Linked DNA regions of Homo sapiens. The protein of the gene in region 2 purifies or fractionates together with the protein of the main gene of each other region. This does not show direct contact. Each region holds a gene or a part of one and is shown on either strand. Other genes may lie near its edges.

Region 1 (2,731 bases), on a different chromosome or scaffold from region 2:
GAGGATCTCCATGGGTAAGTGGTTTCTACCCGCATGGGTAGAGTTCTGCCTCTGGTCCTTCTCAGGGGGCACTTTCACCAAGAGCAGTGTAATTATCTCTGAAAGAGCAAGTCAGCTTGTGCCGCATCCCCAACCAATCCACAGCCTGGAGTACCTTTCAAGGTCAAAGTGCATGGCCAGCTCCATTGAGACATTCCATTTCAAAGCACCGTGCTGACAGATATCAAAGTACTCTAGCAGGGAAAATAATTTGTTTGCTGTGTAAGGAAGAATGTAGACAAGACAGATAAATCTGAAGGTCATGTGGCATCAGGGAAAGGGCATGGCTGTGTCTTTTGCACCCAATATGAAACATCTTCTCCCAACACTGCTTTAATGGAAGTTCTAGGAACCAATTTAGCTCAGGCATTTGACTCCTACAGCAGAAGTTCTGAGCCTGACCACAGATGGTGTGTAATCTATCAAACACACCCCTGGCCAAGTTGGGTCCTATAGGACCTGGTACTATGTACTATTGTAACTTCTAGTTCCCTAAGAGGTACCTGTTTTCAGTAAAAAGGGGTCCTGAGTTCTGTGCAGGTGGAAGAGCTACCCGAGAACTACCTGAGTTCTGTGCAGGTAGAGTCCCATTTCTTATGGGACCTGTGTGCTCCTGAGAACTCTTACTTGAGACATCAAAAAGAAGCAGCAAGAGCTTCTGGGACAGAGACTGCTTGGCCAGCTTTGTAAGTAAGTGGCTGCCTCCAATGTGATGTGAGTACATGTTGGGCAGTCTCACTGTCCTAAGGTATGTCTTCTTTCCACCTCCCACTGCCCCTCCCCTGCCACCTATCAATGATGCCTTGGTTCAGTCATTAGAAATCTGTTGCTTTGAGTTCTGAAATATTTTCACCTTAAAAAAAATGCTGAAAATACACATTCTCCTGGGAAGACGATAAACAGCTAGCTAAGAAGCCGAGGTTCAGTGGTGGCAGCAGGAAGGACACTGCCACAAATTTTGTCTATTTCATATTTGTCCCCTAGAGCCAGCCCTAGCAAATGTGTGAGTTGGGAGTAGTTAATAGTAAATAAGACTCTGACTTTACACAAGCTACACATTTTATACTTTTCATAAACCACAAAGTCTCTCTAGAATTTTTTCTGCCTTCACTAAAATTGGACTGTAGCCAAGATATAAAGCAAGTCATTTGGAACCTGCCGAGTGAGCACTGAAGCTACTTTATCATGAGATGTGTGTTAAGAAGGCTGCAGCCCACAGGAGTCCAGGGAAGGCGGGGACCACAGAGGCACAGAGTCCAGCACTTGGCCGCTCATGGGCCTTCTTTCTGCCTCAGAGGACGGGGGCAGAGAAGTGATGAAGGGAAATGTTCTTAGAGGAGGAAATATCCTTTGTCCTGTTCAGAGAGACCAGGGCCCTACCATTAGGCATACTTTCAGAAGCAACCTGGAGAACAGCTATCAATCATATTCAAAACCAGTACAAGAACTGCTGCCTGGTACCCTGTGAGTCATTTCTATGAAATTCCATATAAAGAATGATGATAAGTTTACACACTGTGCAATCTCACAATCTGAAAATAAAGTTGAGTTGGCTGTGTTTTCTCTGCTCTTGTCAGAACATTGGGACAATTGGTCGTTCAAAAACATTCATCCTCTTACTGCAAGTTTATCTGGGTACTTTTACCTGTGTGTTCAAAGGCATTTCTTTTCAGCAGTGATCATTATAACTTCACAAAAAAAGATGCTGACGGATTTACTTACAGGGCCTTAATGTTATTTTGTCCCAGCCAACACCCTCTAGGTCCTAAAAGTCAAGGTACTTCAGTTTATTTGGCAAACATGACAACATTTTTTTTGGCCCTGGGCCCAACAGTTTGTACTTCATGAAACATATTGTACATTTTACATAGTTTAATTTAAAAAATACCTTTTAAGCTAGTTGATCTTTGACTGTCTTATTTATTATAACCTTTCAGCACATTCCAAGGTTTTAGTTACTCAGGAAGGAGTTAATTAAAATGATTTTATTTTGGTCTGATGGATGTTTTTTAAAAGGAAAATTATTATTATGAACCTTCAGCCTACTTTCTTGAGTGCCGTAAAAGTGCTTGTAAATCTTTTTTTTTTTTTAAGAAGAAAGAAAAAAATGGTGTTTGACGTTGATGGAAATTCAAAAATATATATGGAACTGAAACATTAACTTAGCTAAAATAAAAGCAATCTGTGTTTGAGATGAAGCATTCCTTAACTTATTCATCACCCATATAAATAAATAAATATAAATAAGTTGACATATTTCTTCCATCCTGTTGACAGCTGGAAATAAAAGTGCCTGCAGTTCCTCCCCTCAGCCTTCTTAATTGGCCAAGCTTTTTTCCTCAAGATGGGATTTTGAAAAGCTGTATTTTAAAAAGTGTATCAATTTTCATTCGTGTAATTATATGACAGCAAAAAAAAGGGGGCTGATAAAATGAACTAGTCATTTACTCATGTTGTTGCATATTTTAAAAAGCAAACAGGTGATTTTATCAGTATTTCCACGGTTGGTTTCATGTCGGGGTGCTACATCTGAATCATCTGTCTCTGTTATCCAGCATCTACGGGGCATGTCTACCGTCAGATAGGAAAGGAAGGATGTGCCCCAATTCTCAGTGTCTACGATGATCTGTTTCTCAGACATGCAGCACTTCAAAACCTGGACCACTCTAAGCTCTCAAGTGAGTAGTCTTGA
Region 2 (3,500 bases):
ACAGCAATCCCATTGCTGGGTGTACATCTGAAGGAAAATAAATCATTCTACCAAAAAGACACATACACTCATATGTTCATTGCAGAACTATTCACAATAGCAAAGACATGGAAATCAACCTACGTGCCTATCAGCAGCGGATTGAATAAAGAAAATGTGGTACATATACATATACACCATGGAATACTATGCAGCCATAAAAAAGAACAAAGTCATGTCCTATGCAGCAACATGGATGCAGCTGGAGGCCATTATCCTAAGTGAATTAATGCAGGAACAGAACACCAATACCTCATATTCTCACTTTTAAGTGGGAGCTAAACACAGGGGTGGGGGTGGGAATACAAGATGGGGGAGGGGAGAAGAGGGGTAAGGGTTGAAAACCTAACTACTGGGCACTACGCTTACTACCTGGATGACAGGATCATCTATACTCCAAGCTTCAGCATCACGCAATATACCCAGGTAATAAACCTGCACATGTACCCCCTGAATCTAAAATAAAAGTTGAAATAATAAACAATAAAATAAAATAGCCTTTTTTAAAGAGCAGTTTTAGGTTCGCAGAAAAATTGATTGAAAGGTACAGAAAATTCCCATATACAACACCCCTCCCTCTACACACAGCCTCCCCCATTATCAACATCCCCTGAGAGTGGTGCATTTGTTACACTCAATGAACCTACACTGATGCCTCGTCATCACCCAGAGTCCACAATTTACATTTGGGTTCACTTTTGGTGCTGCACATGCGATGGGTTTGGACAAATGTATAATAATGTGTATTCGCCATTACGATATCATACAGAATCTTTTCACTGCCCTAAAAATCTTCTGTGCTCCACTTATTCAGTGAGACTATTCATCTCTCCCTCCTCCCTACCCCTGGCAACCACTGATCTTTTCACTTTCTCCGTAGTTTTGCCTTTTCCAGGATGTCATAGTTGGAATCATACAGTATGCAGCCTTTTCAGATTGGCATCTTTCACTTAGTAATAAGTAAGTGAACCTTCATGTAAGGTTGCTTCATGTCTTTTCATGGCTTCATAGCTCCTTTCTTTTTAGGACTGAATGGTATTCCATTTTCTATGTGCACCATAGTTTATTCATCCATTCACCTACTGAAAAACATCTTGGTTGCTTCAAAGTTTTTGCCTGGATGAATAAAGCTGCTATAAATATCCATGTGCAGGTTTTCATGTGGATGTCAGTTTCAGCTCATTTGGGTAAATATCAAGGAGTGTGATTACCAGATTTCTCTCCACTGTTTGAGACCCGGTGACCAGCAGCCTTGCCTGCTAGGGAGGAGGGTGTAGGAGAAATAGGAAGCCAAGGATGGTTAAGACTTTGTGGGCAGGTAGCATGGCTGTGTCCCGGGAAGTGTCTCAGCCCTGATTTGGTCATTCATGTTCACTTTCCCACTAGGCTGTGAGTGTGAAAGTGCTTTAAGCCAGAGAGAGCCAGTTGGGAATTCTGGTTCTGCCACTTACTATCTGCAACTGTGAGACACATTGGTTCATCAAATCTGAGATGCCACCTGTTGTAATGGGCGCCTGTTTTATATGCCACTAAGAAGGAAAAATCTCTGCTGGGTAGGTGGCAAATTATATCAAGTGCCAGGTGCTTCCTGATTTCACAGACATATAAATGTGTGTCACAGAATCAATGAAACATGGTAATAGATGTGAAGAACTCAGAATAGCACCTGGCACATAATAGGCCCTTTCGACCTGAATGACCTTAAGGTAGCCTCACAACCTCTCTAAAGGCATTTCCCCAACTGCGACATGGGAACAACATCTACACTGCAGGACTGTCATGCAAACAAAATGCAACAAAGCTAAAAGGGCTCTGGGGCACAATCCTGGCCCATGGAAACATCAGCAATGTGGGTCTGTTCCCCCTTCTCTGAGGGCTGAGCCCCTGTCACATTGATCTCTAAACTCAGTGCTTGGCACACAGCCTGGCTGGAGGAAATGAAAAATCAATGTTTGCAGAATGTAGTAGAGAGCCATTCCTGAGCATTACAATGCATTGGTTCTCCAAGGGGAAATGTTGGGGACCCAAAGAACACCAGAGCAACTGAAAGAAGCCTTTGGATCATCACAAAGCCAGGGTTTGGCTGGGAAGTCATAGTCTCAGGGTGAAACACATGGTCAGTGCCAGAGCTGGGATCACAGCTTGCGTTTCCTTATGTGTCTTCCCACATCCTTTTCACCATCCTGCCCGCCCCACTACTCTTGGGGGCTATTTCCCCTGCTGGGACCTGAGCATCCTCACTTGATAAGATACTGGAGTGGTCAGTGGGTCTTATCAAAATCATTAGGAACACCAGATTCCACGGCCAATCCAGACCTACTGAAAGAGAATCTTGGTGGCAAGAGTGAGGGATCTCTATTTTTCCAAGTGTCCCAAATAATTCAGAACAATTGGTTTGTGGGCTGTGGACTGGCATTTAGATTAGAGGGTCAATCAGCAAGGTTCCTTCTAGCTCCAACCCTCAGTAATCCAAGGCCAGAGAAGAAATCAGGGTCATCTCTTTTTAAAGCCAGAATCCACTGGTGTCATGTGGGGTAGGGGTGGACATTGTACTGGAACCCAGTGACAAGTGGGTGACACAATGCAGGAAAATGCCCATGTGAACTGCCAGAGAAAATAACAAACCTACTCAAGCCCTGCTACTAATAAGCGCGGCACTCCTGGACTTTTGTTTTTCCTTTATCTTGTATTTGGCCAAGTGGGCTGGAAGGAGCCTCCTTTTAATGACTGTGACTTGGCAAAGACTTTCATAGGTCCCGAAGGAGATGGCAGAATTGACATCTGTGCCCCATGAGAAAGGAGAGAACTCAGAACTGGCCACATGCCTGGGCCAAGAAAACCCCAGAAAATTCTGCAGAGGAACCGAGGAAGCCACCAGGAAGCGACCCCAACCCCAGGAATGATGCTAAAGACTACAGCGAGAGCACCAGGGATGCCTCCTCTCGATATTGGATGTATTTGCTGCGGATCCTTCATCCCTGGCCAGGTGACCGTTCTCCCCACACAGACTGCAAATACAAACTCATTCAGGCTGTCCCCAAACAGGCTGAGGCTATGCAAGACAACAGAGAGATCCTGGAGAAGAAAAACATGGAGAAGAGCTGGAATTCAGAGGCTGGGTCTGACACCAAGAAACTCCCCGGGAGCAGTAAGGACAGGCTAACCTGCAGCCAGCAGCACCAAGAGGGACCCGGCCGCTGCGCGGGGCCTTGGCCCTGGGTTGGCTGAGGCCAGGCTGTCAGCCCTGGTTTCTCACAGACCTGCCTCACCTCTGGCTGCACCAGGAGGCCTGCAACAGAAGCCACAGTGTGGGGTCAGCAAGTAGGGCAAGAAGTGGCAGGAGGGTGCTGTGAGTCACAGAGCAGGCCAGGCAGAAGTCAGGTGTGGGGTCAAAACAACAGGAAGAGTGTGACTGGGTGTGACTAGGCAGCCAAGGTAGACGGTCGGAGACTCCCTGACTT

What was found. The genes of interacting proteins can lie anywhere in the genome.
Region 1: the proteins of SCARA5 (region 2) and UST purify together in Homo sapiens (affinity purification with mass spectrometry; one large-scale study listed by BioGRID and IntAct). This does not show direct contact.

The regions. Positions count from the first base shown.
Region 1 is NC_000006.12:149,074,760-149,077,490, forward strand, and holds the end of UST (uronyl 2-sulfotransferase), read left to right. Parts: 3' UTR 1-2,231; downstream 2,232-2,731. UniProt on the Homo sapiens protein: Sulfotransferase that catalyzes the transfer of sulfate to the position 2 of uronyl residues in glycosaminoglycan chains. Has mainly activity toward iduronyl residues in dermatan sulfate, and weaker activity toward glucuronyl residues of chondroitin sulfate.
Region 2 is NC_000008.11:27,881,174-27,884,673, forward strand, and holds part of SCARA5 (scavenger receptor class A member 5), read right to left. Parts: intron 1-3,500. UniProt on the Homo sapiens protein: Ferritin receptor that mediates non-transferrin-dependent delivery of iron. Mediates cellular uptake of ferritin-bound iron by stimulating ferritin endocytosis from the cell surface with consequent iron delivery within the cell.